Linked DNA regions of Homo sapiens. The protein of the gene in region 6 interacts with the protein of the main gene of each other region in a pairwise test. Each region holds a gene or a part of one and is shown on either strand. Other genes may lie near its edges.

Region 1 (4,003 bases), on a different chromosome or scaffold from region 6:
TCAACTATTCTATTTGCATTTAGGAGACTGTTCATCTATGCTAGATTGTCATTTTCCCTCCTTCTCCCACAGAAGTTTACTGGTAGTCCATGTCATGGCTCGTAGCTATCCCTCTAACCATACCATGGAAATGCAGGCACCCAATGTGAAAAGGAGCACTTGCTGGGCATCACTGACACCGCTCATGTTTTACACATAGTTGAGTAATCAGCATATCTAGAATTATCTTGCATTGCCTAAATCATATGTATATAGTGAATGTTATATAATATACCTGGCAGGTCTGTTTTAATTTAATTGAATAAAGATACAAATACTTTGTTTGGCTGGCATATATTAAATTATTATATGAAGAAAATGGTTGATTCTTATTTCTTTTAGTTGAAAAACACACAAAAACACTAAACATAAAAGCACGTTTTGTGGTACGCCTTGGTTTCTAGTTCTGGATATATGTATTAATCTTAAAGAATGATCTAAAGTCACAGCTTGGCATATAGGAAGATACTTGGTTAGAATAGGATGGGTATCTTTTAAGCAGAACTTTGTAAGTAAGTTTTAAGTTCCTAAGCAACAAGTATACAGTTTGTTAAGGTTTATATTGAACATTCTACCTTGCTTGAGGTTTTCTGCTTTATCAAAACTATTCATAATAGAACATCTACCTGCATCATTACTATCATAATATGGATTATTCATAAAGCGTATGTACTGTTCTTCTGAGTCTAACAAATACTGTGACTGAAATGCATGCACCTTGTTGAAGAGAAAACATTTTATTAATCTCCACTATAATGTCTGTGAAATGTGCAGTATTCCATCCTTAGAGAGTTTATCTGGTTCATCAGCATCTGCATGTATCCTCTGAATAATGAAGCAACATTTCAGCAATTCTGTTAACCACACCATTAGAGACATTTTTAGAAGTGCTGCAACATGGTGGGAACCTAGTACTTTAATAATTTCCTATGATATTTATTAGAGCATAAAATGTACATCACGATAGTACAGTATGTAGTCCTTTAAGACCAGAAGGTATGTTAACTGCACCATCATTAAGCAGTCTATCCTATTTTCTTATTTATTTGTTAGAATTGAATCCTTTCTCAATATCTGTACCATTCCTATGATGGTAGCCATTCTTCTCTTTATAAAATATTTCCTCTTTGAAAAGCGTCCTAAAACATTAATTTCAAATCCCCTCTTGGATGCAAAGTGTCCCTAAGACCATCCATTCAACAGTATTTATGTGAGCCAACTTACTAGAGCCGCTACAACTAATCATGATAGACAGTCCAGAATCTCCCTGGACTTTATACTGGGCCAGCCTCATTGTCCCTAAGATTTCTCTTTTTATGTCTCATGGATTACTTCTCTTTTTAATTGCCCCAGGCACATTCCAAATGAGAACCTGGTAAAAGTCACATTGGACCCCCTTCAGTATGTCTTCGGCTAATGTGTTAGCCTTCAATAAGGTGATAACCCCTTTTCAACCTATCTAGTCTATAAAGAGGAAAAATTCAGATTTGGAGTTCTAATCCTATTTCTCCCAAAGGGAACTATTCTTCTACCCCATGGTTCTAGGAGACCACTTCACTGTGCAACAGTTTTACATGCATTGTGGATGGAGGATATTTTTATTCTGAACTGTTACATTTAGGTAAAAATATTTTCTGCAGTGGTAACTGATTAGAAAAATGCCAATTGGATGCCCTTAGGTGGAGGTGAGAAAATGGCATCCTTGCCTTCTTCTCAATATGAAACATTAACTAGTTGACAAATTTATCCTTGTAGTAATGAAAATCTATTTAATCAGGGACCAGAAATGGCTGAGGAGATAAATGCATCATTACAAAATTCTGCTTTTGAATCCTGGACATTACAAGGGGGTAAATGCAGCATGACTTTTTGTTAACCACATTCCAAAATGTGGAACATTTCTTTTAGAAATGAAAATATTTCAAGGCTGATGTATTTTAAGACTACACATTATCAGGAAACATACATTGAGAGTTCGCTTAATTAAAGGTTGTTGGGCATCAAATTATGTTTAGTAGGTTACTATTCTCTAACAACTCAAGGATGCTTTAATGGATCTGAATTTGACAAAGAGCATGCCACACTAATACTACAGTCAACAACAGCCCAGAGAACAATTACTATGTCAGCTGGAGGCTATATTATGATTCTAAATTCTTAAAGGTTTTTTTCCCTCCATAAATCAAAAATTACCTTATGTAAACCAAAAATTAGTTGGTATTTATGGTCATGATCTTAATTCTCAAGTTTAGCTTAATCTTGTATTTCATTGTTTGTCTTCTAATATGACAGCTTAAATTCAGATTTTTAAGTGACTCAGCAAAATAGGAGGAGTGTCCCAATTTATTAGTGTTGTACATATTGAAGAAAACCTTTTTGTTCCTTCAGATTTAGAAAGAAACAGTTTAACCATTTATTTCTTGGTATTCTGCTGCTGTGAATAGGTTTACTTATTCTTTTAACATATATTGTGTGACTACGCAAGTATAGGTCCTGTTGTATTGCATTAATCTTTACCAGTAACTAAACATCACAAGGTTAATATTGGTTTGGCTGAAAGAATTATGCAGTAAAGTTATTTATAAGGGAACATGATGACTTTATTCAATATTTTTCTTCTTTGAAACATCTCATTACTAACTTTTAAGATTATTTCATAATCCCTTATACATGAGCCAATGAAATATTTTGAGCTCTACTTAAGAAGCATGAAGTCTATATTATAAATCTAAACAACAAAAGCACTTGTAACTTGTTTAGTAAATTCCATGCCTTATTTTCCATTTTTGACACCGTAAAGTGCATTTTCTGTCGACTGTGAGCAAATTTCCCTTTTGCCTTTAATGAAAATAGTGCATTAAGTAGCCAATTGCTGCAGAATTATAAAGCAAATTAGCTAACAGTGGGTCACATTGGACTACCACTCAAAGAAACAAGATGCATAACAGATGATGGAAGGTACATGTGGTGTGGCTTAGGGAGAGCGCACCTGTGCCAGATGCATGCCACTTTCAGTAGCTGCCAAATGTGCCTTTAATTAAGAACATCTCTAATTTTTTTCTTCAGATCAAGTCAGCATTTGGGGTCGGGATTTGGGCAGGGAACTTTGGGGTGCAAATATCTGGTGAAACCACCAGAGAATTTGTTTGTCAAAGTGACATGTATAATTTTAGTTGAGACGTGTTTGTGTATATATGTGTATTTGCCTTTGTTTAGTAGCACGGTTATTTGCTAAAATAATTGTCAAAAAATTGCTCTGTCGGTCGGTCTTTGATGTAAGAACAAAGTGTGGTCTATACATCTAATATGGCCTTTGTACCTAACCATGTTCATAGGTAATCTTTGTACTCTGTGTGCAGCAGTATTTGGTTTGCATTTAAAGTGAAAATAACGGCTGTTATTTTTCTGGCATTACTAAGATAAACTGAAAAATAATAAAGAAAAATGCCTTACATAGCCCACAAGTGTATTATTTTTGCATGTATTTATTTTAGAGGGCAGTATTTTTGAAATCATTAGTGATTCTCATTTAGCTCATATATGCCATATAGAAATATTTTGCATTTTTATTGTGGTCTTTCTTTGGAGGCACTTTTTTCCTGTATCAAGTTATAAAAGGATAAAAGAAGTTCCACATTTCCTCTGTGTCAAATCTGCTGATTGATTGTAGTGAGTGGGAGGCCTCTGGGATGAAAACTAGTAATTTAAAGTGACCTTGAGTGTCACCTGGATGAAGTTTCAGAGTGCTAAGGCATTTGTATTCCATAAAAGAAGTTTTGAGATATCACGTTCCCTGACAGGCAGCTTTTGCTGAGATCTGCTGGAATGAGGTAGCCTGACCTTTAGCAATTCTTTTTCTAGGCTTGGCATGAAAATGTGAGTTTAGGGTTGTAACTAAAGAATGATGCAAATGTACCGTCATTCAGTGTGAACTATAGGATGTAAAAATTGATGAATCCTTAGA
Region 2 (3,500 bases), on a different chromosome or scaffold from region 6:
CCCTGCAGGTGTCATACTGGGCATTTGATCTGGGATGTCTTTGTCCATGCCTTGGTAAAGGGGCAGTCTGTCAGATTAGGGAAACTGAGGCAGGATTGGTGTGGCTCCATATCTGCCAGTAGTCACTAAGTGACCTGGGGCCCAACTCTTGGCCAGAAGTCCTGAAGCCGCCTGCCCTGCAGATGCCTTGGGTGTGGCCTGCTTGGCCCTTTTAAAACTCTTAAATGAGGTTCCAGCCTTAAAGGACCACAGCTTCACAGCCGGCTCCAGGGTCCTCTGGAGAGAGGGAGGGATGCGGCCGCGCTGGGCCTTCTCTCCTTCCGCCTCGCGTTGGCAGTCCTGCTGGGGTTCCTTCCCTTGCCCGCGAGGCATCTGATCCTGAGAGTCCGGCTCTCAAGCTGCGACTGGGAATGGGCCCCAGCAGCCTCCCTGCGCTCCTCGGAACAAATGCAGGCACGAAGAGGATTCTGCGAGCTGCCGCGGGTGGAGAGCCGTGTTTATATTGGTGCCGCTTCATACACACATCATGTTTTGAACTTGACTCCAAGGCCTTTGCGGGGAGGCACCTTTCTCTCCCCCAAGGGGTCTTTGCTGGTGGATTCACGGTGCCTGCCCAGAGGGATGTGTGGGACTTAGTGTGGGGAGGGAGCCCATGCTTGATGAACTCGGCCTGAGTGGGCCCTGATCAGTGCGTCGTAGAGGCCCGCATGCTGAGTCTCAGGCATCCCTGGGGTGGTGTGGGGTGGGGACCGACAGTGTCAGGGCGTGGCTGTCCCAGGCCAGGTGAGTCCCGGGACCAGGCCTGTGGAGAGGGTGGCTGCCCACAGCCCTGCTCCCGTGATGCCAGGTGGGAACACGGCTGGGGCCAGGGACGGTCGGTGCGCGTGCCCTTGGGTCTCTGGTTTGCGACCGACCTCGCCAGCAGGCACTGCATGGTCCACTCCCCAGAGAATGCATTCCTGTCCCCTAAAGCTGAGCGTCTCCTGGAAGCAGCACCATGGGTGTGAAAGTGCGTGGAAGGTGCCTCCTCACCCCATGCCCAAGGGTGGTCTTCGTTGGACCTGTTTGTGGGCCCCAATGCTGCTGTGCCTGACCAGCCTTCCTCCCGCACAGCATCCGCGCCGGTGGGGCTTGACTGGAGCTGGATGGAGATTTCGGGGCCTCCTTGGCCCAGGGTGTTGCCTTCCTGATGGGTGGGGGTGACCCGGCTGCTGGCTGGAGCACCTCTCTTGCCCCCCTCAACACCTCCAGGTCTGGGCATGTCCAGGGGCATCCAGGAGGGTCTGGGTTCCGGCCTCTGCTCACCTATACCCTCTGCCTGTGCTCCACTCTGCCCCGCACTCCGTGCCCTGCACCAAAAGCCTCAGTGCCCACCTTACAGGGAGCCCTCCAGGGTCTTCCATTAGATGCTCCCTCTGCGATTCCAGAGCAGGTCATGTCTCTTTGAGGGTGGATGGGTTTGGGCCACCCTTGTTCTGGTGGAGCCAGGATGGAATTGAGCATCCCGTGTCTGGGTCCACCTCCAGGGAGCACTACATGCTGAGCACATGTCCCCCGCACATCCTGCTGCCCACTGTCCCCCTGCTGCCCACCGTCCCCCCGCTGACACAGGGAGACTGCGATGGACTCAGAGAGGGCCCCCAAGAGCCAGGCTGGGACCCGGGCCCTCTGAGAGAGCCACTGTGCTTCCCTGCCACCACCCTGCTCCTCTCCAGGGTGCTCCTGAGCCGTAGTCTCGGCAACCCTTGCAAATCTCCATCTCCCTAAGCCTGGACCCAGGCCCTTGGCTCACCAAGTCTAGCCAGCAGTCAGTTGTAGTTTCTCTTTTCTAGAGAGTTTTTCTCTCTCCTCTCCCATGTGAATTTTCCTGGGCCAGTGACCCAATGGGAGTTGGTGGCCCAGGGACCAGGGTGACGCTCTTATGCGCTACTGAGCCCGGTGCTCATTTCTGGGAGCGTTTTTCTCACTCTGTGGATACAGACGTCCAAAAGTCAGATCCCCCTGCCCCTGGGGCCGAGCCTGGCGGGGCCAGGAGAGCCGTGAGGGTTTGTCCACACCCATTCAGTCTGCAGGGGCCTCCTCCATTGCCCCTGCATCCCACCGGCCCTGCAGCCCCAGCTACCGTCTCACTGCTGTCTGGGTCCTGCGGGCTGCCAGGGCCCGGGACAGGGACAAAAACAGCCACACACCTCCCTCCCTCCAGGGCTGATGTGGGCTGGGCCCCTGGAGACAGCTGGGGAAGGGGGAACTGGGGTGAAGAGTGCACAGGGTTGGGGGGCAGGGAATTGCAGGCCCCGGGGGTGGGGGGGCGTGGGTGTTACACAAAGCCAGCCCTGTGTGTACCCTGAATGCGGCTTTATCCTGAGTGCTAACAGACGGACCTGGGCCCTACAGAATCAGGCCAGGCTGCCCCGGCCCTGGACCTGCCTGTCTGGGGAGACAGGAGGTGTGGCCACAGCGACCTGGGTCTGAAGCCTGATCTCTCCTGGCCAGGAACATGCGGGTGTCCCACAGGCGGCCCAGGGCTTGGGGCCTGAGTTCCCAGCAGGCAGGGCCGAAGCCTTCTCGGGGCTTGGGAAAGCCCCACCAAGCCTAGTGGGAGGACGCGCCAGCTCTAGGGTCTTGGACTTCTCGAGGCAATCACTTTTCCCTCTGAGCCCGTGTCTCCTCACCCGTGAAATGGGGATGATAATAAAAACGCCCGTTCTTAGGTGTGCTCAGCCCACAGCATGACCGACTGGATTGGATCATTCTTTGTCATGGGGGACAGTCCTGTCGGTGCAGGACGGTTACCACAGCCCCTGGCCTCCACCCACTCCATGCCAGGAGTACCCCCCAGTTGTGACAACCAAAAATGGCTCCAGACATCGCCACATGTTCCCTGGGTGCAGACGTGGCCCCAGCTGAGAAACACTGGCTCATTAGCAGTGTAGACAATGGCGCGCTGAGCCCTGGGTGCAGATGCGGCCCCAGCTGAGAAACACGGGCTCAGTAGCAGTGTAGACAGTGGCACGCTGAGCCCTGGGTGCAGACGCGGCCCCAGCTGAGAAACACTGGCTCAGTAGCAGTGTAGACAATGGCGCGCTGAGGGTGGCACAGATGCATAAAGTGCCCGAGACGGGGAAGTTCTGGAAAACCTGTTGGGGAAGAAGGAGTGGCAGTGGACACAGGTGTGGGAGTGCTTCTGTGTGGAGAGGCGTCTGCCACTTCACAGACAGTGACATTCCCACCTAGGATGGGCTGCTTTCCTGCCTTGGGGAGAGCGAGGCTGGTGGCAGGAGATGGCTGGGCCCCCCGGGTTTGGAGTGTGCTTGCCTGGGCTGTCTGATGGCCCGAGCGCCTGGCATCGGCTCTGCACGGCCTGTTTTTTCTCCAGTTGCCACCTGACACCTGCCCACCCCGATCCCCCTCCCCCGGCTTTGGTTCCTCGGTCCTGGGAGGAGGAGGAACTGAGTCAGTGGCACTGGGCTTGAACTGGGGCCCCCAGGGAGCCTGGCTAA
Region 3 (3,500 bases), on a different chromosome or scaffold from region 6:
TCTGTTGGTGTCTCAGCATCGTGAGGACAGAAGCCCAAAACCTGACTCCCTTCCCCAGACCTGTACATTCGGGCAGCGCGTACATTCTGTCTCCCTCTCTCTCTGCGCCCAGAGCCTCAGCTCAGCTGCCTCCTTGGAGGCAGCTACCTACCTCTCCAGTCCTGTCCTGGGGCCATCGTGGGTGTGGGACAGGACCTGTGACTCTTTCCCTTTCTTGTCTAGTCCCCCGCCACACACTCACTCCCATGGTTTGTAGCCCAAGAGTCTCTGGTAGGGCTGCGATAAGGTTGTGTGGTCCTGGATGATTTTACTTAGAACCTGGGTTTCCCCTGGAGAAAGGCTGGCCAGGGTGGCATCTGAATGGGACTGCAGCCTGCTGACAGGAGGCCTGGCCACCTGTCCTGGGGAGCAGCACTGGGCTTTTTTTTTTTTTTAAGATAGGGTCTCACTCTGTGGCCCAGGCTGGGGTGCAGTGGCACTATCACGGCTCACTGCAGCCTTGAACTCCTGGGCTTAAGCGATCCTCCCACCTCAGCCTTCTGAGTAGCTGGGACCACAGGTGTGTGACTCCACGGGGCCTGAGCACCAGGCTGGATGCAGCTTTCTCTTGTAGCTTGACAGGAGCCAGGGAGGGGGATCCCACCTGGAGCTGGTATACCCAACACAGCTGTGGAAAAGTTGACCACAGGCGGCCCCTTCCGCCTGATTGGATTATTGTATGATCATTCATTAAACTGTTTCTCTGTTGTTTTTTTGAAACAGAGTCTCACTCTGTCGCCCAGGCTGGAGTGCAGGGGCGAGATACCGCTCACTGCAACCTCCACCTCCCGAGTTCAAGCAGTTCTCCTGCCTCTGCCTCAGTAGCTGGGACTACAGGCAGGCGCCGCCACACCTGGCTAATTTTTGTATTTTTAGTAGAGACAAGGTTTCACCATGTTGGCCAGGCTTGTCTCGGACTCCTGGCCTCAAGTGATCCGCCCACCTCGGTCTCCCAAAGTGCTAGGATTACAGATATGAGCCACTGTGTCCAGCCTGCTTTTTTTTTTTTTTTTTTGAGATGGAGTCTCATTCCATCACCCAGGCTGGAGTGCAGTGGCACAATCTTGGCTCACTGCAACCTCCGGCTCCTGGGTTCAAGTGATTCTCCTGCCTCAGCCTCCTGAGTAGCTGGCATTACAGGCACCCACCACCACGCCCAGCTAATTTTTGTATTTTTAGTAGAGACGGGGGTTTCACTATGTTGGTCAGGCTGGTCTGGAACTCCTGACCTCAAGTGATCCACCCACCTTGGCCTCCCAAAGTGCTGAGATTACAGGCAGGAGCCACTGCGCCCGGCCTTGTTTTGCTTTCACAAGGCTTTATCTTTTGAGCAGTTTTAGGTTTACAGAAAAATCCAACAGAATGTCCAAAGAGTTGCCATGCCCCTCCTCTCCCATCTGGCACACAGTTTTCTATTCTTCACGTCCTGCATTAGTGTGGAGCATCTGTCACAATTGACAGGATGTTGATACATTATTATTAATAAATGCATGGTTTACCTTCCGGTTCCCTCTTGGTGGTGTACATTCTCTGTGATTACAGTATCATAAGAGTAGTTTCACTGCCCTAACATTTTTCTGTGTTCCCCCCTACTCATCTCACCCTCTTCCTACCAAACCCCTGGCAACCACTGATCTTTTACTGTCCCCTTAGTTTTGCCTTTTCCAGAACGGTCTATAGTTGGAATCAGACAGTATGTAGCCTTTTCAGATTGGCTTCTTTCACTTAGTGCAATATACATTTAAGGTTCCTCTGTGTCTTTTCACAGCTTGAGAGCATATTTCTTGCTTGTTTTTTAAATTATTTTATTTTATTTTATTTGAGATGGAGTCTCGCTCTGTCACCCAGACTGGAGTGCTGTGGCATAATCTTGGCTCACTGCAGCCTCTTCCTCCTGGGTTCAAGCAATTCTTGTGCCTCAGCCTTCTGAGGAGCTGGGACTAAAGGCACACACCACCATGCGCAGCTAACTTTTGCATTTTTAGTAGAGATGAGGTTTCACCATTTTGGCCAGGCTGGTCTCGAACTCCTGACCTCAGGTGATCTGCCCGCCTCAGCCTCCCAAAGTACTGGGATTACAGGCGTGAACCACCGCGCCCAGCCTGTTTTTTAAATAGGGTGCTGTGTTGCCCAGGTTGGTCTTAAAACTCATGACCTCAAGCAATCCTCCCTCCTCAGCCTCCTAAAGTGGCTGAGAGCTCATTTTTTTTTCAGCACTGAATAATATTCTGTTGTCTGGATATACCACACTTTTATCACCTGCTGTTTCTTTGTTTTTTATGATTATTATAAAAGAGATAGCTAATCATCATTAAATGTATATCAACCGAAAAGAGAACATTTAAAAAAATCCCTGAGTCCCTCTGTGGGGCATTTCATTCTATGTTCTACTATGTTCTTTAAATTTTTTTTCTTGTACATTCTTTCTAGTCCAAATCATATTCTTCTGGAAACAGAAAAGGCTTTCTGTCCGGCTTGCTAGATAATGTCAAACAAGAATTAGCCAAAAACAAAGAAATGAAAGAAAGTATAAAAAAATTCCGTGACGAGGCCAGAAGGCTAGAAGAATCAGACGTGCTCCAGGAGGCCAGAAGGAAATACGTGAGTTTCTTTGCTGCTTTTTTTTCCCTCACCCAGGCTGGAGAGTAGTGGTGCGATCTCGGCTCACTGCAACCTCCACCTCCCAGGTTCAAGTGATTCCCCTGCCTCAGCCTCCTGAGTAGCTGGGCTTACAGGCGCGCACCACCACGCCCAGCTAATTTTTGTATTTTTAGTAGTGAAGAGGTTTCACCATGTTGGCCAGGCTGGTCTCGAACTCCTGACCTCAAGTGATCCGCCCGCCTCAGCCTTCCAAAGTGCTGGGATTACAGGCGTGAGCCACCGCGTTGGGCCCCTTTGCTTCTTACCTTTCTTGGTTGACATGTTTGTTTCCAGGGCCAGGGTTTCTCCAGGCCAGGGACAGCCAGAGGAGCTCAGGGCTGGACGGTTGGGGGCAGGGTGGCTCGTGAGGAAGTGAGGTCACTGCTCTGATGCACTAATGAGAGGGAGCCAGGGGACAGGTGCGGGTCTCCAGGCCTCTGGGTTCTGCCATGAGACCATGCAGCGTTCTGTGCAGCTTGAAGCGTGGTCCCCAGACCAGCAGCAGTGGCTCCTCCTGGGAGTGGATGAGCAGTGCAGAGGCTCACACCCTCCCAAACTGCCAGGCCAGCGCCCGCATCTTCACAGGCCCCCAGGCAACGCATGCACACCAGCTATGGGATGCAGCGCTCCTGAGAGCTCCCAGCTGTAGCCCTCTGAGTGGAGCCTGGTGGAAACTGGGTGATGGTGCTGGTATTTTATTTTATTTTATTTTATTTTATGAGATGGAGTCTTGCTCTGTCATCCAGGCTGGAGTGCAGTGGCGTGACCTTGGCTCACTGCAACCTCCAGCTCCTGATTCTCCTGCCTCAGCCTCCCGGATA
Region 4 (3,500 bases), on a different chromosome or scaffold from region 6:
GCATCTTTCAACAGTAGCATGGAAGCGATTCAAGAAGAGTTAGGAATAGAAGGAAAAATTGGAGCCATTTGCTACATAATTGTAGAAAAGACTTTATGGTGATTTCTGAACATTTCCAATGTTTAAAGACAGTTGGGATAAAACATGGATTTATCATAGCTCCTCTTTTCCAGGTAGCTTGAAATTAGTCTGCATCCTTTTTTAGTTTCTTTGGTTAAATCTGCATTTATCTCTTATTATCTCAAACCACACCATTCTTCCTAAGAAGTTCCAGTGGCAAATACTTTCTAGTCAGCAAGGTAGTTTCACCACACAGTTAATTACGTATAGTTTTAAAGCAGTCTGCTAGTTTCAAGACAGGCACTGTCTGCATTTCCTATGAAGAATTGTTAGACGAACCTAAAAGATTACTAGGTATTCAAGATCAAGATCAATGGAAATTAGATTAGCCAAAACAAACAAAAACCAAAACTCTGTATGTTCTTTACCATCTTTATTTTATTTGTTCTTCACTGACATTTATTATGGCAAGTACTTGTGGTTACTGGTTTATATGTGGGAAAGATAGCAAAGAAAGGGGTGACAGAGGAGGTGGAGAAATGAGGTCAGAAATTGAGCATGGCCAAATGGATAAAATGAGATATGATAGCACCTTTAATAGCCAGATATGAAATTATGTATTTTTCGTGACTGAATTAATCATAATAGTGCTAGTGCCAAAGACATAGGAAAAAATTATCAAAATATCTTTAGTAAATAGTTTGAGAGTAAAGTAACAATATAGATCCCAAAATTATTAGGGTGTTTTGAAGGTAGAACCCTGCATATATAGCTAACATTTTTCATTTCTTATTCTATTCTAATTCATTGATCGTGACTCAAAAAATACAGATTCAAAACTGTTTACTAGTCAGATATGTATGTTCACAACAGTCTGACAAAAATAAAATTAGTGTTCGATATTTAGCTGATATTTAGGATTTGAAATATGCAGTTATCTTCTGTGAATACAAAATTGGCACTTGCTGCTTGGGTATGTGGCCTTAATTCGGCAGTGCCAGCACCCACAAAGCTATTGACTGTTGGGATCTTTGTCCGTAATTAGCATTAGCTGCCACCAGTAAGTTATAGCATTTTGATAATGGCTTAGTGACTGAAGAGTTAGACATCTTATAGGCATAATTATCTTAAACAGAGATTCAAACATTTTAAACATGCTTTTCTACCCCCTAAAAAGGCACATGACTTATTTAATACAAAATTATTTTTAATTGAAGTCACAATGAAATTTTGTAAAGCAAAAAATAGAAAACTTTCTTAAATTTCTCAAACTACTTTGCATTCAGTATGCCATTTAATCTTTTTAACAGTTCTATGACTATCCCCATTTTAATGCAAAAAACTAAATCCCAGAAATTTTAGACTTATACCAGTTACATAGCTGGTATTTTAAATTCTGACTTCAAACCTTAAGTACACGTCCCTGAAGGCTAGAAAGTTAATTATTTCAGTCACTACTTAATGTAATAGAGGATTCCCTGAAAACTGAGCAAAATGTTTTCTTCAGTTCCCTGTATTCAATATCCTAAGCAGTTTATGGTATATAGCCTATTCAAAGGAAAAGAGAGCATGGATAAATTTTAACGTATATTTCACAGGATAGTTTTGATGCTTCTAGATTTTCCTTGATGAAGTGACATAATGAATATATTTTTTATAATTTAGATTAGTTTCTGGATGATACATCAGTCCTAAGTTGACTACCAACTTTGGGGTCTTCATAAGTAACACAGTAATGACATTTGGCACAGGCTTGATCTCTGAATATAGAATTAAGACTGCAAACCAGCTCTGTTTCAGGAATTTAAGTCATAAGAATATATAATCAGGTTGCATCAGAACAGAAAGAATAATTTTATTGCAGCAGAATCTGTCACAGTGTGTAGATGTGAGCATACATTTGAATTGTATACTTACACTCTTATTCATGAAAAAATCTATTTTTAGAGTAAGTGGTTAAAGGGATGATTACATCTCACATGCGCATTTAATCATCTTGTCCACTATAATTTTGCTGTCTGGTCTCAGAAAGGGAAAAAAACTTTGGACAATACTTATTACTTTATTGACTGTGTTAGTTTCTTCTTCTTAAGTAGACTGTTGTCATCTCTTTTCTTTTGAGTCCAATTTTCCTATAGTTTGTTTATGTCAATGGCTCGACAAAATGATAAAATATATTTCCAGAAAGCACATGGATTTGGAACTCTCTCTTGTTATGTTTATATTAGGCTTTATTTTAAAGGCAAGTGAGACTGCTTCAAATAAAACAACTTCAAGCTTCCAAGAAACAGTTAAGAGGAGGCAGAGAAGAGCAGAAACACTTCTTTGCTGACACTTACACTGTTGCCATGGACCTACATAAGCAGTGGGAGAACACAGAGACTAACTGGCATAAGGAAAAGATGGAATTACTGGACCAGTTTGACAATGAAAGAAAGGAATGGGAAAGTCAATGGAAGATTATGCAGAAGAAAATAGAAGAGGTACACTTTAATTTGTTTTGGATATACTGTAATGTTTAAGTGCAGGATGAAAATTCTGTGGGCTGTTTTGTATTGGAAACTGTTTTTGATTTCCTTATTCGACCTAAGAGGTACATTTCTCAGTGACATTTACTAGAACAAAAATAGCATAATCTTATCCAATGGTATTGTAAGGATTATTTTATATCATTGCATGAAAATTAAGCATTTGAAATGTCACTCTATAATGTTTCAACTTATTATTTTCTGGCTAGAGAGCTTTTTTATCAAAAGTGAGGTATGTATTTTGCATGAATTTTCAAATACCAGGTCCAGGAGTAAAATGCAAGAAAGATATACTTGGTGGGACATAGATTAGCAAAATTATAGTTGGGCATTAGAACATAGATCTTTCCTAAGAAGATTTATGAGTAATGTCTATTAAAGGAAATTACATGTTAGATAATGCAGTATAATCAAAAGGAGTATCATATATCAAACAGAAAATGGCAGTAGACATGAGATTTATTCTATCAAGGTGTGCACATTTAGTGGCATATTTATTGGAAAAGGAGTTATGAAAAATGACATATCACGACTCTGACACAGTCATTTTGTTCCCGTTAACCCTCCCTCAGTCCGTTGACCCTGAAATATTTCCTTCAAGCATTTGCATTGATGTATATTCAAGCTTTTGCACCAATTGGAAATAATTTATGCTTATCTTGCTTTCTTTTGGTAACATCCTTAGTATTGACTTTATATGGTTTTATGCACATTACCAAAGTTGTTATTTTAAGACTTCTTGGCCTTTTTTGCAGGCAAAGTAAGTGCTTTATGTGTTTATAGTACAGTCATGTTTCTTATTAACAGCCATGTAATTGACTGTGAATAAAATATGAATTGGCATAGTAGGAAGAAAGCTGAAGAAAAGTAACTATTAAGCCCTTCCTCTAAAATAGAGCTGAGAAGGCAGGC
Region 5 (4,111 bases), on a different chromosome or scaffold from region 6:
GGTGGGGGCCGGAAGGGTTTGCTTTGGGAGGTTGTCTGGGAGATTGCTGAAGTTTTGATATACACACCTCCAAAGCAGGACCAAGTGGACTCCTAGAAATGTCCCCTGACCCTTGGGGCTTCAGGAGTCAGGGACCCTCGTGTCCACCTCAGCCTTGCCCTTGGCACAGCCCAGCTCCACTCCAGCCTCTACTCCTCCCCAGAACATCTCCTGGGCCAGTTCCACAAGGGGCTCAAACGAGGGCGCCTGAGCTGCCCACACTAGGGATGTTCTGGGGGTCTGAGAAGATATCTGGGGCTGGAAGAATAAAAGGCCCCCCTAGGCCTGTTCCTGGATGCAGCTCCAGCCACTTTGGGGCTAAGCCTGGGCTATAACAATGCCAACGAGGCTTCTTGCCATACTCGGTTTACAAAACCCTTTCACATACATTGTCGCATTGGATTCTCAGAGCTGACTGCACTAAGCAGAATAGATGGTATGACTCCCACTTTGCAGATGAGAACACTGAGGCTCAGAGAAGTGCCAAGCCCTGGGTCACAGAGGCGTAAATGGCAGAGCCAGGACCCACCTGACTCCAGGCTGTTTCCTGGCCTCCATGAGGCCACCTGCCCTATGGTGTGGTGGATGTGAGATCCTCACCATAGGGAGGAGATTAGGGTCTGTGCTCAGGGCTGGGGAGAGCTGCCTGGATTTCTCTTTGATGGGGATGTTGGGGTGGGAACCACGATACACCTGACTAGCTGGGTGTATTTCAGGGATGGGACAGACTTCTCAGCACAGCATGGGAGGTCAGGCCTGGGAGGGCCCCCCAGACCTCCTTGTCTCTAATAGAGGGTCATGGTGAGGGAGGCCTGTCTGTGCCCAAGGTGACCTTGCCATGCCGGTGCTTTCCAGCCGGGTATCCATCCCCTGCAGCAGCAGGCTTCCTCTACGTGGATGTTAAAGGCCCATTCAGTTCATGGAGAGCTAGCAGGTAACTAGGTTTAAGGTGCAGAGGCCCTGCTCTCTGTCACCCTGGCTAAGCCCAGTGCGCGGGTTCCTGAGGGCTGGGACTCCCAGGGTCCGATGGGAAAGTGTAGCCTGCAGGCCCACACCTCCCCCTGTGAATCACGCCTGGCGGGACAAGAAAGCCCAAAACACTCCAAACAATGAGTTTCCAGTAAAATATGACAGACATGATGAGGCGGATGAGAGGAGGGACCTGGCTGGGAGTTGGCGCTAGCCTGTGGGTGATGAAAGCCAAGGGGAATGGAAAGTGCCAGACCCGCCCCCTACCCACGAGTATAAAGCACTCGCATCCCTTTCCAATTTACCCGAGCACCTTCTCTTCACTCAGCCAACTGCTCGCTCGCTCACCTCCCTCCTCTGCACCATGACCACCTGCAGCCGCCAGTTCACCTCCTCCAGCTCCATGAAGGGCTCCTGCGGCATCGGGGGCGGCATCGGGGGCGGCTCCAGCCGCATCTCCTCCGTCCTGGCCGGAGGGTCCTGCCGCGCCCCCAGCACCTACGGGGGCGGCCTGTCTGTCTCATCCTCCCGCTTCTCCTCTGGGGGAGCCTGCGGGCTGGGGGGCGGCTATGGCGGTGGCTTCAGCAGCAGCAGCAGCAGCTTTGGTAGTGGCTTTGGGGGAGGATATGGTGGTGGCCTTGGTGCTGGCTTGGGTGGTGGCTTTGGTGGTGGCTTTGCTGGTGGTGATGGGCTTCTGGTGGGCAGTGAGAAGGTGACCATGCAGAACCTCAATGACCGCCTGGCCTCCTACCTGGACAAGGTGCGTGCTCTGGAGGAGGCCAACGCCGACCTGGAAGTGAAGATCCGTGACTGGTACCAGAGGCAGCGGCCTGCTGAGATCAAAGACTACAGTCCCTACTTCAAGACCATTGAGGACCTGAGGAACAAGGTGGGTGAATGGGCAGCAGAAGGCACCATTCCAGCTAGCTCCTTCTGGGAACAATTCATGCCCCAGGCCCCTGAGACCTTAAGATTTCTCTATAGGACAGAGTCCACCCCAGATCCCTTCTTTCGAGGTCTTGGATGCCCTAAGACTGATCAGTGAGAAGATGCTTTCCCTTCCCCAGCCTCCTCATCCCCTTCTGATCTCAAATCCTCAGACCATGTGAGATCAGTGATTCCTATCCTTACATTTTTTAGAGGAAGCAGTTGAAGCTTCGAGAGGTGCTGTGACCAGCTGCAGGTCACATAGCAAATTAATGGCAGAGCCAAGGCTGGGGCCCTTGTGCCCTACCTTCCAGCACAGGAGGCAGCTACTTGTTCTCCAGCACAGGGGAGGAGTGAGGCTCTAACGGGACCAGGCAAGACATCCAAACCACTCATTAGCTCACTAGTCTGGGCTGTGGCTGCCGCCGCCCATAAGCCTTGGTACAGGCTGGTCCCTCCCCACAGCCAGGCGGGCATGGAGAGCCTGCAGAGACAATTAGTGTGGTCCCTTGATGTGCCCTGCACAGAGAGAGCCTGGCAGGCTTGTGCCCTGACTCTAGCCCCCTCCTCCCTGCTCCCACATTACTTGGGAGCCCTCCCTGCTGGAGTCTGTTGGGCTCTAATGACTTGCATGGATTAGGGAAATTCAATGATGAGGTGGGGAAATCCAACCAGACTCAGGGGCCAATATATCTTCTTATTCTTCCCCTGAGTCCTCTTTTCTAATCCCCTGTGTTAGTTGGGTTTTATCTCTTGAGAAAGTTCCACTTGAAGTCCCATGGCCTGTGAGCTTGAAAAGGAATGTGCATATCTGCAGAGGACTGGCAGGGCTGGCTGATGCAGACAGAAGAGAGGTCAGCTCAGGAAGGAGGGCTAGGGAGCCTCAGATTATTCTCCTCACCTGGAGGTGGGGAACTTGAAGCCCCAAGACCCATTAGGTTTTGCAGCAAGACACTGGCAGAATTGGGACCAGAACTCCTGGGCTTTCGATTCTAAGCCCGGGGCTGCATCTACCCCCTCTGTTGACCATGAGTTAGCAAAGTCTTAGGACAGGCCTGGGGCATCTGTTTTCCTTTGGGCTGCTATGGTCAAGTTTTGTGGGGGAAAAGGGGGATTCAGGCAAGAACATGAAGCAAGAGCTTAATGTAGGCTACAGTGAAGTCCAGCTTGTGAAGTCCATTTGACAAATTACCTGTGCCTTTTCCATCCTGCAGATTCTCACAGCCACAGTGGACAATGCCAATGTCCTTCTGCAGATTGACAATGCCCGTCTGGCCGCGGATGACTTCCGCACCAAGTGAGTTTGAAATGGTGGGCCAGAACATCCAGTGTCCCCAGAGTAGGGCATTTTTGGAGCAGTGTTTCCCAAATAGAACTAGCCAGTACCAGGATAGGTGCATGAAAACTCCCTGGGGTGCTTATAAAAGAATAAGACTCTTGGGCCCCACCCTTGGAGTTTTGATTCAGCTATTTATAGCAGGTTACCTGGGTGATTCTGGTCCACAGCCAGGTTTCAGAACCGCTGCTTTAGGGAGAGGCACTTTCCACTTCCCCAGCTGCCCTTGAAGTATAGGAAGGAATCATAGTTGGAGGACTTCTGCATTATTTGTTGGCTGAAGCTAGAAGTGCAACCCCCTCCTGATTTCTGCAGCAAGATGAACTGCCTTATCCCCAGCCCGCAGGAATGTTCATATCTGAGCAATCAATGGGCACTGTGTTCAACCACGCCATTTTCAAGATTGGCTCCTTAAACCACCCACAAGGCACCAGCTCTGGGAGAAGCTGCAGGGAGAAGAGAACAAAGCCCTCGCTGTGATCAGGATGGGTGTCTCATACCTTTTCTCTGGGGTCATTCCAGGTATGAGACAGAGTTGAACCTGCGCATGAGTGTGGAAGCCGACATCAATGGCCTGCGCAGGGTGCTGGACGAACTGACCCTGGCCAGAGCTGACCTGGAGATGCAGATTGAGAGCCTGAAGGAGGAGCTGGCCTACCTGAAGAAGAACCACGAGGAGGTGAGAACTATATGGAAAAGTCAGCTTAAAAGAAATGCAGGGAGGCTGGGTACAGTGGTGCGTGCCCATAGTCCCAGCTACTTGGGAGGCTGAGACAGGAGGATCACTTGAACACAGGAGTTTGAGTCCAGCCTGGGCAACAAGGCTAGACCCTGTCCAAA
Region 6 (3,500 bases):
TACCATTGGGGTTTAGTGGAAAGGATTGTGGACTTGACGTCAGAAGATGTGATTTTTTTCTGTGTCCCTGATGAGTGGCATGACCTTAATCAAGTCATGTCCACTCTCTCTGTCTCTTTTTCTTTCTCTACAAAACAATGAGGGCTCTCACTCTTCAAGAACAATGTTGCCTGAGTCTGTGGCCCATCCTGCCATAGTTCCCGGGACACAGAAGGCACTCAGTATTGCTGAGATTTGCCGACTCTAAAATCTGACGAGGCCGCAGTGCCTTGGTGGGAGGGCTCCCCACTTTCTCTCTCTGGGAGCGTGTCTGTCTGTGCTCAGACATGTATGAAGCACAGATCCTGGCCTGTAAATCCATCCCTGAATCCTGGGCTTCCACTTGGATGGCAGCTTGTGAGTCTGGAGATCGAATCTGCTGAATAATTAGAAAGTCGCCCCCGGTCTTTGTGGATTAGTATCCTTTATCAAATGATGGCTCTTTCACACCCAGGCCCTCCCCCAGTGAACCTCATTGGCAGCATCTTAAAAACAGGAAGACTGAGGCTGCAAAGGGTGAAGGGCCTGCCCAAGGTCCTGTGGTGTGTAGAGCGGTGTCCCCTAAAAATGTTTGTCCACCAGGAACTTGGGAATGTGACCTCACTTGGGAATAGGGCCTGTGCAGATGCGATTGGTTGGGAGGAGGTCACACTGCATTAGGGTGGGTTCCCGTAAGGGTAGAGGCCGCACAGAGACACAGAGAAGCCATGTGCCGACTGAGGCAGAGACTGGAGTGATGTAGCCACAAGCCAAGGGACGCCTGGGGCCACCGGAAACTGGAAGAAGCCAGGAAGGACCCTTCCCAGGAGCTTTCGGGGAGAGCACAGCCCTGCCAACACCTTGATTTTGAACCTCTAGTCTCCAGAAATGGGAGGCAATACATTTCTGTTGTTTGAAACCAATCTAGTCCCCTAACCAGGCTGGCGGAGCAGGGACCTGAACCCACCTCTGTCCTGCTCCATGCTGCCTGGGTTCATGCTGGGCAGCCCCACTTCCTGTGGGAGCCAGCGTTGACCTCACATCTACGCCCCGACCCTAAGCAGGCTGTGTCCTGCCCTTCCATGGCCCATGCTCTCAGCCTGACACCGAGGGGGTGGAGGGGACTCTCTCAGTGATGAGTGACCAGTCACTGCTCTGAAGTGGCCGAGGTCCCTCTTGGGGCAAATGCATGAGGCCCCCTTGCCCGCGTTGGTCCTCCCCAGTGAAACGTGCCCATAGGCACAGGTCCGCAGAGAGAAGGAAACGCAAGGACCCGTTCAGAAGTCGGTGTGACTCACTCTGACGTCAGCAACCTGCAGTGGGTCTTTCCCAGGCCACACTCACTCGCATGGCAAGGCGGTCCTCCCCGACTGCTAAAAACAAAAGTCAGGAAAGGAATTTCCCCACCACCTACACACTCATGCTGCTCCCCACCACCTACACACTCATGCTGCTCTGGGCTGTGCAGCCTCAGTGCCCCAGCTTTCCTAGAGACCGTGGGAGCTTCCCATTTGCCTCTAAAGGCTCACCTCTCACGTGGGAGACAGCAGTGAGCCCCAACTTCGGGGCTCCAGGGAAAGGCTTGCATCAACCTTGACCTTTTTTAGGGGGTGAGCAGATCCTGTTTGTAAGTGCCCTGCCGTGGAGTGGGGGCAGGGTACGTCTGTGCACCGACACGGCGTCTCTAGCAGGAAACTTTAGGTTAGGAGGCTGATTTCCCACTGCAGCCTTGGCGAGCAGGCGCTGCCGTCCTCCAGCAGATGCTGCTGAAGCAGAAATTGGGCAGGCCCAGAGGCTCAGTCAAGGTCACCCTGCAAAAGGGGGCAAAGTGCAGCCTAAAACTAGGTCTATCTGACACCAAAGTTTGTGTTGTTCCCGTCAAGACACAGACCGCCTCCCTAGGACATAAAATACTTTGTGGCTCAACTGAAATCAGATCCTGGCTGCTTTGGTGATGCCAGCTGCTCTGCTCAGACTGACCTGAGAGCCCCTGGCAGGACCAGGGAGGGCTAGGGCCACAGGGGCAGAGGACACCCAAAAAGACCTGAGGCTCAACCACTCCCAGGACTTCCTGCTTCACCAAAACAAGGTGAACCTTAAAGACACTGTGTGTTTTATAGTTTTGTTGCCTAAAGAGTTTTCTTCTTGAAACTCTACGATTAAACAAAAAGCCGTTGAACTGGAGCTCGGGCCTGCAAGTCCAGGCCACTGGGTAACGTGCACACCCCGGGGAATGGAGGAGCCGTTTACTCTGTGCATCTGAATCGTGCATTCGGGCAGCTAGCCTGCAAACCGATAGGCCCCCGAGACCCTGAACCCACATCTCCATATCGTCCTCTTTCCTACTTCCTGGAAAAATCTACAGGGATCCAGCCATCTCCTTTATGATGTGAGTTCTGAGCGGGCCAAATGAGCTCTGAGTTCTGAGAGCCCTTGCCTTGTGGAGGAAGCATGGAGGTCGGAGGAAGGAGACATTTAGGTAACGGTGTCCTGGCACCCTCTGTGTTTCCCTGATTTCACAGACTGCTCCGTGAAGCCTTGCACCAAACAGCTGCATCTGACCTTGGCCCACAAGTTCTACCCCCACCACCAGAGGACGCTGGAGCAGCTGGCCAGAGCCATCCCCCTGGGCCACAGCTGCCAGTGGACCGCAGCACTCTACTCCCGAGACATGCGCTTTGTGCACTACCAGGTGAGAGAGCTGAGCAGGGGCTCATAAGAAGCAGATGAATGGGCTGGGCTCGGTGGCTCACGCCTGTAATCCCAGCACTTTGGGAGGCCGAGGCGGCGGATCATGAGGTCAGGAGATGGAGACCATCCTGGCTAACATGGTGAAACCTCGTCTCTACTAAAAATACAAAAAATTAGCCAGGCACGGCGGCGGGCACCTGTAGTCCCAGCTACTCAGGAGGCTGAGGCAGGAGAATGGAGTGAACCCGGGAGGCGGAGCTTGCAGCGAGTGGAGGTAGCATCACTGCACTCCAGCCTGGGCTACAGAGCGAGACGTCTCAAAAAAAGAAGCAGATGAGTGAACGGCCACTCACCTGACAGCATGTACCCCCTGGAGCCCTCCAAGGGAGATATGTTAGTAGCAAGGAAAATTTCTATTGCTTCTCTAAAGCCATTCTCTTTCTTGTGCAATTTACAACCAGCATTCTTTTATATGTGAGTTAGAGATGCACAGACAACAAAATAGAAGCATTTCCAATATTAGAAAAGGAAGCTGGGTGTGGTGGCTCACACCTATAATCCCAGCACTTTGGGAGGCTGAGGCAGGTGGATCACTTCAGGTCAGGTGTTCGAGACCAGCCTGGGCAACAGGGCAAAACGCTGTCTCTACTAAAAATACAGAAAATTAGCCGGGCGTGATGGCACGAACCTGTAATCCCAGCTACTCGGGAGGCTGAGGCAGAAGAATCACTTGAACCTGGGAGGTGGAGGTTGCAGTGAGCAGAGATCGTACCGTTGCACTCCAGCCTGGG
Region 7 (3,050 bases), on a different chromosome or scaffold from region 6:
GGGTCCTGGTTGTGAAGTGGAGTTAGTGCACATGGATGTCAGGGGACGGGTGTGAGGCATGAGCTGGGGGGGCCCCCTTTTTCAGGGCAGAGAATGAGGCGTGTGCACTGTCTGCTGTGGGGATGGTGTGTTTATGGCCATGTAAGTGGCAGGTGTGTGTAAAGATGTGCTTGTGGGTGGTGGGTGTGTCTGAGGGGGTGTGTTTGGGAGCCTGGCCTCCAAAAGCCAGTGTCTGGGTTGGAGACAGTGCAGGCCCCTTCTTGGCCCCACCCTCTACCCCATTCCTTCCTGTCAGCCCCAGTCTGTCTTGGCACTGGCCAGGCTTGGGTGGAGCCTGTGTCCCAGACAGATCCCCTAGGCCTATCTGAGACCCATACAGGCCCACACCTGAGCTCCTGTCTGCCTGAGGAGGGAAAGGGGGAGTGGCCAGGTCAGGCAGGCCAGTCGTCTACACACCCCCTTGGTACCCATTCCCATTTCACAAACTCCTCCAAACCCCAAACCCCAAACGGAAATCTCTGGGACAATGGCTCCTCCAGAGGGCCCCTCAGAGCCAGGTGCTGGCCAGATGCCTTGATCACAGCCTCCATGGCCAGGGGCCTGTCAAGCCAGGGGCCCACACACCTGGTGCCAGGGTCCACCTTGGTATACCAGCTCGGCAGAACAGTTCCCCACCCAGCGATTAGGGAGCTGGGCTGGCCAGTACAGCCAGTGGGGAGTGGGTGGGAGGCACCAAAACTTGGCAGCTGTGCCAGAAACCAAAGCCAGGCCCAGATGTAGGGGGAGGGCACGAGAGCTGAACCTGAGCCTGGGGCGTCTCGGAGCTGGATCCCCGTCAGCTCATCCAGGCTGGACAAACCAGTTCCTGGGTCCCCCAGCCGGCTGGGTGGCTCTGGGGCCAACCGACCACAGGTGTCACTGATCACAGGTGTCACCGTAGTGGCTACCACCTCAGGGCAGCCCCTCCCTCCAGCTGGCGGGGCCTCAGCTTCCCAGCTGCCCTGGCTTAGCCTTCCCTGCAGCCCCTCCCCAACAGGCTTGGTCCGGGCAGCCTGCTCTGCGGAAGGTGGCAGCCTCCTGGTGCTGGGCTCCCTGCCTCTGGGGCCTCCAGTCCTTCACTCAGTGTCATCCCTTCCAGCAGCTCCCTGGGCCTCTTGGTCCATCCCTTCAGGCTTCTGACACACTAGTGGCCTCGAGTCACTGATAGTGGTGCCTCCTCCTTACCTTGGCAAGCCCTTGTAGCCCTCTGAGCCCTCATCCTGCAGGCAGAGCCCCTCAGTGCTCTGAGAAACCTGCCCTGAACTCACCGCCTCCCCTGCCTGGGCACTCCCTCCTCCCTGCGCCCACAGCCCCCATGCCAATCTCCGTCAGCTCTTTCTGTGCTGCTGTAATTGTTGGTTTGCCTGTCTCCTTTGAGCTGTGGGCATTGCCGGGGTAGGGTGGTGTCTTCACCACAGCTCCAGAAGGCACTGGTGGGATGTGGAGTCAGGAGCAACCAGAGACCCCCCAATACTAGAATGGGTTTGAGCTTGGGGTGGGGTGGATGGGGAAGACTTACTCTGAATGTTCGTTCACCATCCGTGGGCACCAGGTCTGTGCCAAGCACAGGGACTCCAGGGGCAGCTGCCATTCGTTCCAGTGATGTATTTGGGGCCTTCTCAGGTGAGGAAGCCAAGGTGGCCAAGGCCCTCGGTCCCCTGCCCTGATAGGGCTTACCTGTGGGTGGGGGAGGGAGACCACACATGTCAGAGGTAGTGAAGGCCGCTCCAAATAGTGACTGGGGCCAGGCAGGCGGAAAAGAGAACAGAAGAGAATCCAGAAGTGTTCAGACAGAACTAGGGACAACAGAGGGGCCTCCATGGTGGCATGGGTCAGCAGAGCATGGAGCAGGCAGAGGAAGCCTATCTGTGGGGCTGGGTACATTTCTCTGAGACTCACGGAATGTAAGTGTTGAGGTTTCTGCAAAGAGGGCGCAGGCCCTGCAGTGACGGTTCAGATATTGATAACCCATCCCCCTTGGCAGGTGGGGGCTTAGGCATCCATATTGGATTCAGAAAAGAAAAAGAATGATGCTTCTTGCAACAAAAACAAAAGTGATTATGTCACGAGAGGAGAGGCTGGAGGGCCATGGGAGTTCCCAGCTGGCTCACTCATCCGTCCAGGAGGTGGGTCTCATGGTTTCATTTTGCTTTGGGCTTACTTAGAGTTTTGGCAAATGCAGAGTTATGTAACGAACCCAACAATGAAGATACAGTTCTGTCACCCCCCCAGCATTCTCCTGTGGCCCTCTAGTCCACCCCCCGCCCCACCCCAGCCCCTGGCAACCACTGATCTGCTTTCACAATAACCGTATGGGGTTTTTTCTCTTTCCTTTTTTGTGAGCGGTATTTAATTCCTTTGCTCTAATATGTAATATTAGAACATATTACAAAGTAGCAAGAAAAATACGACATTGGTGTAAAAATAATCTACACCTCATGGAAAGAATGAAGAGCCAGAAATAGATTCTATTCTGTAGAAAATCTTACACAATAAAGGACTTCAAAATAAGGGTAAGGAAGGATGCTTTAACAAGCGGTGCTGGGATAACTGGATAAAAATTTGGGAAAAAAGTCATACTATGTGCCACCCCTGCATTTATTTTATTATTTTATTTTATTTATTTTTTTGAGATGGAGTCTCACTGTGTTGCCCAGGAGTGCAGTGGCGTGACCTCAGCTCACTGCAACCTCCGCCTCCCGAGTTCAAGCAGTTCTTCTGCCTCAGCCTCCTGAGTAGCTGAGACTACAGGCGCCTGCCACGACGCCTGGCTAATTTTTTGTATTTTTAGTACAGACAGGATTTCACCATGTTAGCCAGGATGGTCTCGATCTCCTAACCTCGTGATCCACCCGCCTCAGCCTCCCAAAGTGCTCGGATTATGGGCGTGGGCCACGGCGCTTGGCCCACCCCTGCATTTATTGAGTTAAATTTTAAAAATCCTATCCTAGGAAATTGGTGGTGGGGCTCAGAAAATGATACCCCAAAGTATGAAGCTGTGGGAGGCTGAA

The links.
Region 1: the proteins of UBASH3A (region 6) and SOS1 interact in binary tests that used the Homo sapiens proteins (3 or more experiments, as listed by UniProt).
Region 2: the proteins of UBASH3A (region 6) and PMEPA1 interact in binary tests that used the Homo sapiens proteins (3 or more experiments, as listed by UniProt).
Region 3: the proteins of UBASH3A (region 6) and TIMM44 interact in binary tests that used the Homo sapiens proteins (3 or more experiments, as listed by UniProt).
Region 4: the proteins of UBASH3A (region 6) and KIAA0408 interact in binary tests that used the Homo sapiens proteins (3 or more experiments, as listed by UniProt).
Region 5: the proteins of UBASH3A (region 6) and KRT14 interact in binary tests that used the Homo sapiens proteins (3 or more experiments, as listed by UniProt).
Region 7: the proteins of UBASH3A (region 6) and N4BP3 interact in binary tests that used the Homo sapiens proteins (3 or more experiments, as listed by UniProt).

Annotation. Positions count from the first base shown.
Region 1 is NC_000002.12:38,981,049-38,985,051, reverse strand, and holds the end of SOS1 (son of sevenless homolog 1), read left to right. Parts: 3' UTR 1-3,503; downstream 3,504-4,003.
Region 2 is NC_000020.11:57,661,516-57,665,015, reverse strand, and holds part of PMEPA1 (protein TMEPAI), read left to right. Parts: intron 1-3,500. UniProt on the Homo sapiens protein: Functions as a negative regulator of TGF-beta signaling and thereby probably plays a role in cell proliferation, differentiation, apoptosis, motility, extracellular matrix production and immunosuppression.
Region 3 is NC_000019.10:7,937,167-7,940,666, reverse strand, and holds part of TIMM44 (mitochondrial import inner membrane translocase subunit TIM44), read left to right. Parts: intron 1-2,469; coding exon 2,470-2,640; intron 2,641-3,500. UniProt on the Homo sapiens protein: Essential component of the PAM complex, a complex required for the translocation of transit peptide-containing proteins from the inner membrane into the mitochondrial matrix in an ATP-dependent manner.
Region 4 is NC_000006.12:127,452,890-127,456,389, reverse strand, and holds part of KIAA0408 (uncharacterized protein KIAA0408), read left to right. Parts: intron 1-2,288; 5' UTR 2,289-2,408; coding exon 2,409-2,543; intron 2,544-3,500.
Region 5 is NC_000017.11:41,584,096-41,588,206, reverse strand, and holds the start of KRT14 (keratin, type I cytoskeletal 14), read left to right. Parts: upstream 1-1,311; 5' UTR 1,312-1,372; coding exon 1,373-1,897; intron 1,898-3,149; coding exon 3,150-3,232; intron 3,233-3,793; coding exon 3,794-3,950; intron 3,951-4,111. UniProt on the Homo sapiens protein: The nonhelical tail domain is involved in promoting KRT5-KRT14 filaments to self-organize into large bundles and enhances the mechanical properties involved in resilience of keratin intermediate filaments in vitro.
Region 6 is NC_000021.9:42,413,902-42,417,401, forward strand, and holds part of UBASH3A (ubiquitin-associated and SH3 domain-containing protein A), read left to right. Parts: exon of another isoform or gene 1-2,407; intron 2,408-2,540; coding exon 2,541-2,710; intron 2,711-3,500. UniProt on the Homo sapiens protein: Interferes with CBL-mediated down-regulation and degradation of receptor-type tyrosine kinases. Promotes accumulation of activated target receptors, such as T-cell receptors, EGFR and PDGFRB, on the cell surface.
Region 7 is NC_000005.10:178,123,532-178,126,581, forward strand, and holds the end of N4BP3 (NEDD4-binding protein 3), read left to right. Parts: 3' UTR 1-2,550; downstream 2,551-3,050.